3 linked regions of the Homo sapiens genome follow. The protein of the gene in region 3 purifies or fractionates together with the protein of the main gene of each other region. This does not show direct contact. Each region holds a gene or a part of one and is shown on either strand. Other genes may lie near its edges.

Evidence for each region.
Region 1: the proteins of ZNF174 (region 3) and BTF3L4 purify together in Homo sapiens (affinity purification with mass spectrometry; one large-scale study listed by BioGRID and IntAct). This does not show direct contact.
Region 2: the proteins of ZNF174 (region 3) and ZMYM2 purify together in Homo sapiens (affinity purification with mass spectrometry; one large-scale study listed by BioGRID and IntAct). This does not show direct contact.

What each region holds. Positions count from the first base shown.
Region 1 is NC_000001.11:52,062,677-52,066,413, reverse strand, and holds part of BTF3L4 (transcription factor BTF3 homolog 4), read right to left. Parts: intron 1,590-3,737; coding exon 1,476-1,589; intron 1-1,475.
Region 2 is NC_000013.11:19,965,227-19,968,726, reverse strand, and holds part of ZMYM2 (zinc finger MYM-type protein 2), read right to left. Parts: coding exon of another isoform or gene 3,446-3,500; intron 439-3,445; exon of another isoform or gene 325-438; intron 1-324. UniProt on the Homo sapiens protein: Involved in the negative regulation of transcription.
Region 3 is NC_000016.10:3,404,215-3,407,276, forward strand, and holds part of ZNF174 (zinc finger protein 174), read left to right. Parts: intron 1-211; coding exon 212-434; coding exon of another isoform or gene 435-559; exon of another isoform or gene 560-694; coding exon of another isoform or gene 695-774; exon of another isoform or gene 775-1,827; intron 1,828-3,062. UniProt on the Homo sapiens protein: Transcriptional repressor.

The sequences.
Region 1 (3,737 bases), on a different chromosome or scaffold from region 3:
CCTGGCCAACACAGCAAAACACTGTCTCTACTAAAAATACAAAAAAAAAAAAAAATTATCCGGGTGTGGTGGTGGGCGCCTGTAATCCCAGCTACTCTGGAGACTGAGGCAGAAATTTCTTGAGCCCAGAAGGCAGATGTTGCAGTGAGCAGAGATCACACCACTGCACTCTAGCCTGGGTGACAGAGTGAGATTCTGTCTTAAAAAACAAAAAAACAAATGGAATCATCAGGCAGAGGTGCATCTAGGTGGTAACATCACAAGTAGTTGTTGTTATTTATTAAGTATCTTCTGGAATAACATTAATCTTTGGTCTCATATTTGAGAAAAATAGTGTCATCAAAATACAATAAACTGACATACAATTTTTTTTTTTGAGACGGATGCTCACTCTGTCACCCAGGCTGGAGTGCAATGGCACAATCTTGGCTCACCGTAACCTCCGCCTCCTGGGTTCAAGTGATTCTTTTGCCTTAGCCTCCCGAGTAGCTGGGATTACAGGCATGTGCCACCACAGCTAGCTAATTTTTGTATTTTTAGTAGAGACAGGGTTTCACCATGTTGGCCAGGCTGCTCTTGAACTCCTGACCTCAGATGATCTGCCTGCCTAGGCCTCTCAAAGTGCTGAGATTACAGGCGTGAGCCACTGCACCCGGCTGACTAATACATTTTAAACAATTTTTGAAACAGTTTTAATAAGAAATCTAACCCATGTAAAGCTACTGCTAAAGCCTTTTGGCTGAGGTAGTAACTAATGAGGCTCTGTAAAATATACAGGTGCATTAGGGTAAAAAAGTCTACCTCTATTGAGCCATGAGTCCAAAATCTTAAATAATAAAAAAAAGTCTGGCCGGGCGCGGTGGTTCACACCTGTAATCCCAGCACTTTGGGAGGCCGAGGCAGGCGGATCATCTGAGGTCAGGAGTTTGGGACCAGCCTGGCCAGCATGGTGAAACCCCGTCTCTACTAAAAACACAAAAATCAGCCGGGCATGGTGGCACGCACCTGTAGTCCCAGCTACTTGGGAGGCTGAGGCAGGAGAACCGTCTGAACCCGGGAGGCAGAGGTTGCAGTGAGCCAAGATCGTGCCATTGCATTCCAGCTAGGGTGACAGAGTGAGACTCCATCTCAAAAAAAAAAAAAAAAGGTCTATCTCATCTGAGGAAATGTTGGGGTTTATTTCTACATTATTAGAGACATATTTTATATTAATATTCAAGAACACTTACATAATTTTGCCATATACGCAAATATCTTGAGCTTGAAAAGTATGATGAAAATCCTTAACTGTCTACTAAAATTATTTTTTTGACCATCATTTAATTTCATACAAAAATCAAAGTGCCACAGTCCTTCAAAGACATCAGAGTGACAATATCAAAGATTTTTCTAAGCTGATATTTTACATCTGAAAGGTCCAGACAATTATTTGTGCATGTACCCACACAATTTAACAACTTGCAAAGTGATCATACCTCTTCAATACCAGCTATATTATTCACAGCCAGTTTTTTTAGAGAACTCTGAAGCTTTTTGTCATCAGCTGTGGCTGTTCTATGTACCACCTTCTTCTTTCTGCGAGCTGTACCCTGAAAAATAACCAAACAGAAGCAGAAGTGTTAGCATGCCTGGCATCTGGCAACTGCAATCACATCTTACGTATCACAATAATCTAAAACCCACATTAAAAAATGGACAAAATAATAATGATTAATGTTATAAGACTTCTCAGAGGTTGTGATTGTCAGCCTAACGCAGATTTCTAAAGGTTGGTTCTAGCCAGTTCCTTTTTTTTCCTTATCAGCTTTTTCAGGTTGAATTATTCTTATCTAATATCCAGCCTTTGTCATTTCAACACAAGATACTGTTTGCTAATAAAACATAATTTATAACTTCAAGACAATTTAAATACTTTATAACAATTTTAAAACATTATCTTTTCTTATAGTAACTACCACCCCCTGCCAGTAGTCTAAAGATATTCTGAAATTTGGGGAATTAGGACATAACTGAAAATTAATGTCTACATTACAGTAGGAGGAAAAAAATCAATAAATATATAAACAAATCAGATAATTTCAAATGGGATTAAGTACTATTAAGAAAAAAGCAAAACTAGAGCACAGCAAGAATGACTAAGTAGGGGCAAAGCAATACTTTATTAGAAGGTCCAGGAAAGCCCCCTCTGAAGAGGTAACATATGAGTTGAGACCCATAACTAGGGCAAGAATGATCAAAGCAGAATGAAACAAGGTTGAACTTGTCCTTTCTAGAAGAGAGAAAATGGGCCAGTATGGCTAGAGCAGAGTGAATAATGGGAACGGAAGAGGAATATGAAATCAGAAAGATAGGCAAGGACCAGATTATGTAGCCTAGAATGCCATGGGCAGGAGCTAGATTTTATTGATTGCAATGGGAAGCCATTGAAAGGTTTTAAGCATGGGAGTGACTTGATCTGATTACTTATGACTGAAGTTGCTATGTAGAAAATGGATTATAAAGAGACCAGTCAGGAGGCTCCTGTAGCCGTCCTGGCCAGAGATGAGGGATATGGCAGTGAAGATGGTGAGGGGTCAGATTCTCACAAGAGACCACATGACTTTGCTGATGGATTACACGTGGGATATGAGAAAAAGAGGACATTTGGATGATGCTTAGAATCTTGGCCTGAGCAAACAGGTTGAAAATTATACTAGTTACTGAGAAAGAAAAAGTTCATTTCTAAATTGATACTGTGAAACTCTAAATACATTTTTCCATTGAAATACTATTTAAAATAATGGATTCCTGGATCAGTTTATTAAGTCTTGAGGGTTAAATCTTTCTAAAACTGGTAGGAGTAAGGAGAAAGGAATAGTGGTTTCAATCTCTGGGTAGCTCCTATAGTAGTACTCAGGGAATCAGCCTTATAGAGGTAAGGTAGGGGCTTCAGTCTCAGCAATTCCGGTGGGAGTGGAGGAGAGATCTGACAGCAGAGGATGCCTTGAAATCTAGTTGCTGAAGGACTGACTATTTACATAGGCACTCATTTGTGAAGCATTCCTGACTCAGGGATAGCTCAACTGCTTGGTGCTTGTTCAACTCGAATGATCCTCAGGCACCTCAAATTCAATATGTCTTAAAGCTTATCAGTCCACCAATCTATTCTTATTTCCTAACTTTTGTAGCTGGTGGTACCACCATATACTCAAGTCTCTAAAATCATGAATCTGAGGGTTATCCTAGATTCTTCTGCATGCCCTTTACCCCCCATATCCCATCAGTCACTAAATCGTGTCAATTCCAACTCCTAAATTTGTATCCCATATAATAGAGGTCCCCAACCCCCAGGCCACTGACCAGTACCAGTCTGTGACCTGTTAGGAACACGGCAGCACAGCAGAAGGTGGGGTAGGGGGCATGAGCGAGCATTACTGCTTGGGCTCCACAGCCAGTCAGATCAGCGGCAGCATTAGATTCTCATAGGAGGGCGAACCGTTGTGAGCTGCGTATGCGAGGAAACTAGGATGCGCACTCCTCATGAGAATCTAACTAATGCCTGATGATCTAAGGTGGAACAGTTTTATCCCAAAACCATCATCCTCCCATCCGTGGAAAAACTGTCTTCCACGAAACCAGTCCCTGGTGCCAAAAAGATTGCGGACTGCTGCCTTAGACTCTAGCAATAGCGTCTCAATTGTTCGCCTATAGGCCAAACTTCCATTTTGTTCCATTTTCCACAACGCCAGCAGCTACCT
Region 2 (3,500 bases), on a different chromosome or scaffold from region 3:
TTTAGGAAAAATTAATCTGGCTACAATGGAGTCAAGAATAGGAAGAAACTGCCTTGTAAATAATTCCGTTTTCTAACAGACTAAGGTGAAAGTTAAAAGCATAGTAAGAGCTAAAGATGACAGTAAAGGACACTTAAAGGTCTCAACATTAGTCTAGTGAGGGGAGGTCTGGTGCGGTGGCTCACGCCTGTAATCCCAGCACTTTGGGAGGCCAAGGTGGGCAGATCACCTGAGGTCAGGAGTTCGAGACCAGCCTAGCTAACATGGTTAAACCCCATTTCTACTAAAAATACAAAAAAATTAGCCAGGGACAGTGGCGCGCACCTGTAATCCCAGTGCACCTGTAGTCCCAGCTACTCGGGAGGTTGAGGCAGGAGAATCGCTTGAACCCGGGAGGCGGAGGTTGCAGTGGACCGAGATCACACCATTGCGCTCCAGCTTGAGCAAGAAGAGCAAAACTCTGGCTCAAAAAAAGGAAAGTCTAGCGAGGGGAAGTGAAGGAGGTGGTCATAACTATGAGACCACATTAAGCCCCAGAAGCAAAAATTTTAAATGTTACAGAATTAAGACAAAAAGAAGCAGTTAAAAGATTTGGCAATTAGGTCACTAGCGACCTCAGAAGAGATTTGTTATAGTGTTGACAGTGCAGATCAGACAGTGGATTTCTTTCTAAAAGTATAGGGAAAAGAAGAAATCGTTAGAAAAAGATGCAGAGATTCTGGAGGATAAAGCATTTTTATCTCGATGGAGGATAAAGCACTGCAGACTAATGAAAAAGCCAGAAGAGGGAAGTCGGTGAAGAGAAACATAGAAATTCTTCTAGTCATTACCAGATAAGCACACACTAAGTTTACCATACCAGGTGGTGGCAGCAAATTCATTATGTTTGGTCCATATAAACAGACAGTTTAAGAATTGCAGCTGCTATTAACTGAGCACCTACTATTGGCCAGCTGCATACCCTGTATTATTTTTAGTCCTCACCTCAACAATCTCAGGAAACCAGGCATTACCATACTCATTTGTTAACTGACTGAACTACAGCTCAGATGTTACATGACTTGCCTGATATCGCAAACTGGTAAATACTGGAGCAAAATTGTTTTTAATAGTTATATTAAAGCATAATGTACGTGTAGTAAAATTTACTTATTTTAAGTGAAAGATTTGATAAATGTATTAAATGTATATACTTCTGCAACAATCACCACAATCCAGTTTTATATAACACTCTATCACCCCAAAACTCCCTTCATGAGCAGGGCAGATTTAAGCCTGAATCTGTATGACTCCAACTCATGTCATGCTACAATGAGAAAAATGGCTTTTTTTGGCAGAAAATCTGCAAAATTAAGTCGTTACCCTTCCAATCTTCTCTTAGTACTCACTAGTTCCCTTTCCATGTGAGGCCCTCATATATCTCTAGAACCATACTCACATATCATGATCTCACCAAATTCACGAGTTTACTGTAATTTGGAAACATACCCCCTAAAAGGACAGTATAATCAGACTTTTATATAGGATGCTATTACAGATACTGTGCTCTTTTTTTAAAAAAAGCAAAAGGAGTTAGGAAAAGGAAAGACAAATGAACAGGTAAGTCCAGGAGGAAGACTGAATGAAAACAGAAGAGTAAGGTCCTTGAAAAAGGAAAATGTGATATACAAATAAAGAAAACATGAAATAACAGAAGTCAGGAGTCTGTGTCATGGAAGAGAGACTAACTGGAACAGAAGCTTCTCTTCCATAAGCAATGTAAAACCGTACAGAGACATAGGATGGAATGACTTCCTAGGCAGGAGTTAACACTTATTTGGCTAAGAAACAGGACTATACAATAATAAGACAGACAAAAATCAAAATAAAGTGAGACAATATTCATAGTAAAGTTATAAAGCTAAAACTTGTTAAATTTTATAATCATGATTTTCCTATAACTAATTAAAACAAGTGCAAATTTTTCTTTAGGTAAAAAAACAAGCAGGCTGGGCGCGGTGGCTCACGACCATAATCCCAGCACTTTGGGAGGCCAAGGCAGGCAGATCACCTGAGGTCAGGAGTTCAAGACCAGGCTGACCAACATGGAGAAACCCCGTCTATACTAAAAATACAAAATCAGCCCGGCGTGGTGGCACATGCCTGTAATCCCAGCTACGCAGGAGAAACGCTTGAAACCAGGAGGTAGGGGCTGCGGTGAGCCCTGATCACACCATTGCACTCCAACCTAGGCAACAAGAGCAAAACTCTGTATCCAAAAAAAAAAAAAGAATTATAGACATATAAGAATTCAGGCCTGGTGCAGTGGTTCACATCTGTAATCCCAGCACTTTGGGAGGCTTAGGCAGGTAGATAACCTGAGGTCGGGAGTTCAAGACCAGCCTCACCAACATGTAGAAACCCCATCTCTACTAAAAATACAAAATTAGCCAGGCGTGGCGGCTCATGCCTGCAATCCAAGCTACTCAGGAGGCTGAGGCAGGAGAATCACTTGAACCCGGGAGGCGGAGGTTGCGTTGAGCCGAGATTGCACCATTGCACTCCAGCCTGGGCAACAAGAGAGAAACTCTGTCTCAAAACAAAACAAAACAAAACAAAAACAAAAAAAAAAACAAGCAAATATAGAATTATAAATATATAAGAATTCAGGCCTGGTGCGGTGGCTCACACCTGTAATCCCAGCACTTTGGGAGGCCCAGGCAGGTGGATCACCTGAGTTCAGGAGTTCAAAACCAGCTGGCCAACACGGTGAAACCCTGTCTCTATTAAAAATACAAAAATTAGCCAGGTGTGGTGGTGCACACTTGTAATCCCAGCTACACAGGAGGCTGAGGCAGGAGAATTGCTTCAAGTTGAACCCAGGAGGCGGAGGTTGCAGTGAGCTGAGATCATGCCATTGCACTCTGGTCTAGGCAACACAGCAAGACTCCGTCTCAAAAAAAAAAAAAAAAAAAAGAATTCAGATACCATATCAGGGCCAGAAATAATTAAAATGATTAAAATAAGATATGACAAGCCTGGAACGAAAAAAAGTACAAATCTAAACAGGAGGATAAAATAAAATTTTCATTTAACTTATATTTTCACTTCCACCCAAACCTTTCCTTAGTTCTATAGAACTAGAAACACAATTCACTAAGTCTAGATGAAATGCTCTTCCAAGCAGAGCCAAAGAAACTGCTAGCCCATAATTAACAGAACACATATTTTATGACTATCTAATATATAACAGGTGTTGTAATATCCAATTTGTTAAATCAGTCCCCTGATTATTACCCTGAACACTCTGTCTAGTCCAACTTGATATTCCAAGAAACACTATTCTTCCTAGGAAAAAGACATACCTCTTTGAAATGAATGATTATAAAACTGTTCCAGTATTAGAAGAGAAGTCATTTTTTAATGTTAAGTAACAAAACCCAAAAATTTAGTTGTCAATTCTTACACTAGTAAGTCCAGAGATGGTATCCAGGTGACTACGGCAGAGAGTAATATACACA
Region 3 (3,062 bases):
AAGCCACTCGGCTGATTTGTAGCATCCTCATTCCTGTCATTCTTCACGTTCTCCCCTTTACTTCCTTTGAGGGTTTCAGTGGTTTCTATGAAAGTTGACCTCTAGATGGTTATCAGCAATTCCCAAGGTAAACGGGTCATTATACAACAGTGAGAGATCAAGCTTCCCTCAGTCCTGATGGATGGAATTAATGGATGGGGCTTGTTCCTAGGTGGCCGTTTGTATGCAGGGGCAAAAGGTGCTCTTGGAGAAAACTGGATCTCAGCTTGGAGAACAGGAACTGCCAGACTTTCAACCGCAGACTCCTAGGAGAGATCTCAGGGAGAGCTCTCCAGCAGAGCCTTCCCAGGCAGGAGCTTATGACCGGCTGAGCCCCCATCATTGGGAGAAATCCCCACTCCTCCAAGAACCAACCCCCAAATTGGCTGGGACAGGTAAACACTCTGCCTTTTCTCTCCCTCTCATCAGCCCTTTATCTCCATCAATGTATCTCATGGTTCTGCAAAGGCATAGACCACATGTGTGTGTTTTTTTAAATGTTATATATAATAGTAGATGATTATTCACTAAACAAATTTCACTAATTAGGATGGTGGTGATACTACAAGTAAGTATGTTTTTATCGTTTTCTGTTAATGAAAATTTAAGAATCCAGTGCATGACAGGGTTGTACCTACTTTTCTGTCCGTTTCAGAACTTCTTATAGAAAAGACAGATCCAAATATGGCCACAGATGAACTTCCATGCAAGCTATGGCTGAGTTTCATTGCTTAAAATGCTCCTCTGTTTAGAGGGGCCTGGTAGAAATAAAAACCCACCCTATATCTTATATCTTTGTCCTCCTCTGTGATGTTGCTTGTACTTTAGATCCTCAAATCTATTTCCCTTTCTCTGGTGTGATACTTGTGTAACTGCTGGCCTTGTTCTACACAGTCCTGTGATCTCTAAGCCTGAATGACAGTGACATTTTGGCCAAGCCTGGTGATGTGAATACAAGATACAGTGAGCACGTTAGGGAGGAGGGTTACAAGACGACAAAAATCCTCAGTTTCTTAATATTTGCTACATCCAATGAGGTACTTCGTGTTTTAGTCTGTTCAGGCTGCTAATATAAAATGCTAGAGACTAGGTAGTTTATAAACAACAGGAGTTTATTTCTCACAGTTCTAGAGGCTAGGAAGTCTGAGTTCAAGGTGCCAGCATGGTTGGGTTCCAGTGAGGCCCCTCTTCCAGGTCACAGACTGCCTACTTCTCAGTCCTCATGTGGCAGAAGGGGAAGACAGGCTCCCGTGGGGCTCTTTCATGAAGGCACTAATCCCATTCCAGTGAGGGCAGCACCCTCATGACCTAATCACCTCCCAAAGGCCCCATGTCCTAACACTATTACCTTGGGAGTTAGAATTTCATATGAATTTGGAGGAACATAAACATTTAGCCCCTGGCAACCACAGTCTACTTTTTGTCTCTAGAATTGCTTATTCTGAACATTTTATACAAATGGAATCACACAGGCCGGGCACAGTGGCTCACGCCTGTAATCCCAGCACTTTGGGAGGCCAAGGCAGGCGGATCACTTAGGCTCAGGAGTTCGAGACCAGCCTGGGCAACATGGCGAAATCCTGTCTCTACAAAAAATGCAAAAATTAGCGGGGCATGGTGCTGCACACCTGTAATCCCAGCTGCTTGGGGGAGCTGAGGCAGGAGGATCACTTCAACCTGGGAGGTCGAGGCTGCAGTGAACTGAGATCGTGCCACTGCACTCTAGCCTATGTGACAAAGTAAGACCCTGTCTCAAAAATAAATAAATAAATAAATTGAATCACACAATATGTGGTCTTTTGTGTGTGGCTTCTTTCACTGAGCATGTTTTCAAGTTTTATCCATGCTGTAGCATCAATCAGTGCTTCATTCCTTTTCTGTGGCTGAATAATAGGCATTGTACGGATATATTACATGTTGGTTTTCTGTTCATGTTGGTTCATCTGTTCATAGATTTTTGGGTTGTTTCTACTTTTTGGTTATTATGAAGAATGCTGCTATAAATGTGTGTTTTTGTGTAGACATGTTTTCATTTCTCTTGAGTATATACCTAGGAGTGGAATTACCATATGCTAGGTCATGTGGTAATTCCATGTTTAACTTATGAGGAACTACCAGACTGTTTTCCAAAGCAGCTACACCATTTTACATCCCCACCAATACTGTGTGAGGATTCCGATTTCTCCACATTCTTGCTAGCACTTGTTATTGTCTTATACCCATCCTATTCGGTGAGAAATTTTGATTTGAGGTTTTGATTTACATTTCCCTAGTGACTAATGGTGTTGAACATCTTTTCATGTGCTTATTATCCAGTTACATATCTTGTGTGGAAAAATATCTGTTCAGATCCTTTGGTCATTTTTAAATTAGGTTATTTGTCTTTATTTTTTATAAGAGTCCTTTATGTATTCTAGATACTAGACCCTTATGTGTAATTTGCAAATCTTTTCTCTCATTTTGTGGGTTGTCTCACTTTCTTGACAGTGTCCTTTGACGCACACGTTTTTCATTTTGCTGCAGTCTAATTTATCTATTTTTTTCTTTCTTTATGCTTTGGTGTCATATGTAAAATAGCACTGCCTAATCCAAGGGCACAAATATGTACAGCTATGGTTTCTTCAAGGAGACATAGATTTAGCTCTTACTTTCAGCTATTTGGTCCATTTTAAGTTTATTTTTTCCCCATACATAAACAAGTCAATTTTTATATAGGTTTTGAGGTAGGGGTCTGTCAATCTGATCAGGGGTCTGTCTTAATCTGATCAGGCTCTTACAACAAATTGCCTTAGACTAGGTAATTTATAAACAACAGAAATTTGTTGCTCATAGTTCCTGGATACTGGGAAGTTCAAGATCAAGGTGCCAGCAGATTTGGTGTCTGGCGAGGGCCCATTCCTCATAAATGGTGCCTGCTATGAGTCCCCACATGGTAGTCTCTTGGGTTTCTTTTATAAGGACACTAATCCCATTTATGAGGACCCCACCCTCATAACCTAATCACCTCCCAGATGCCCCACCTC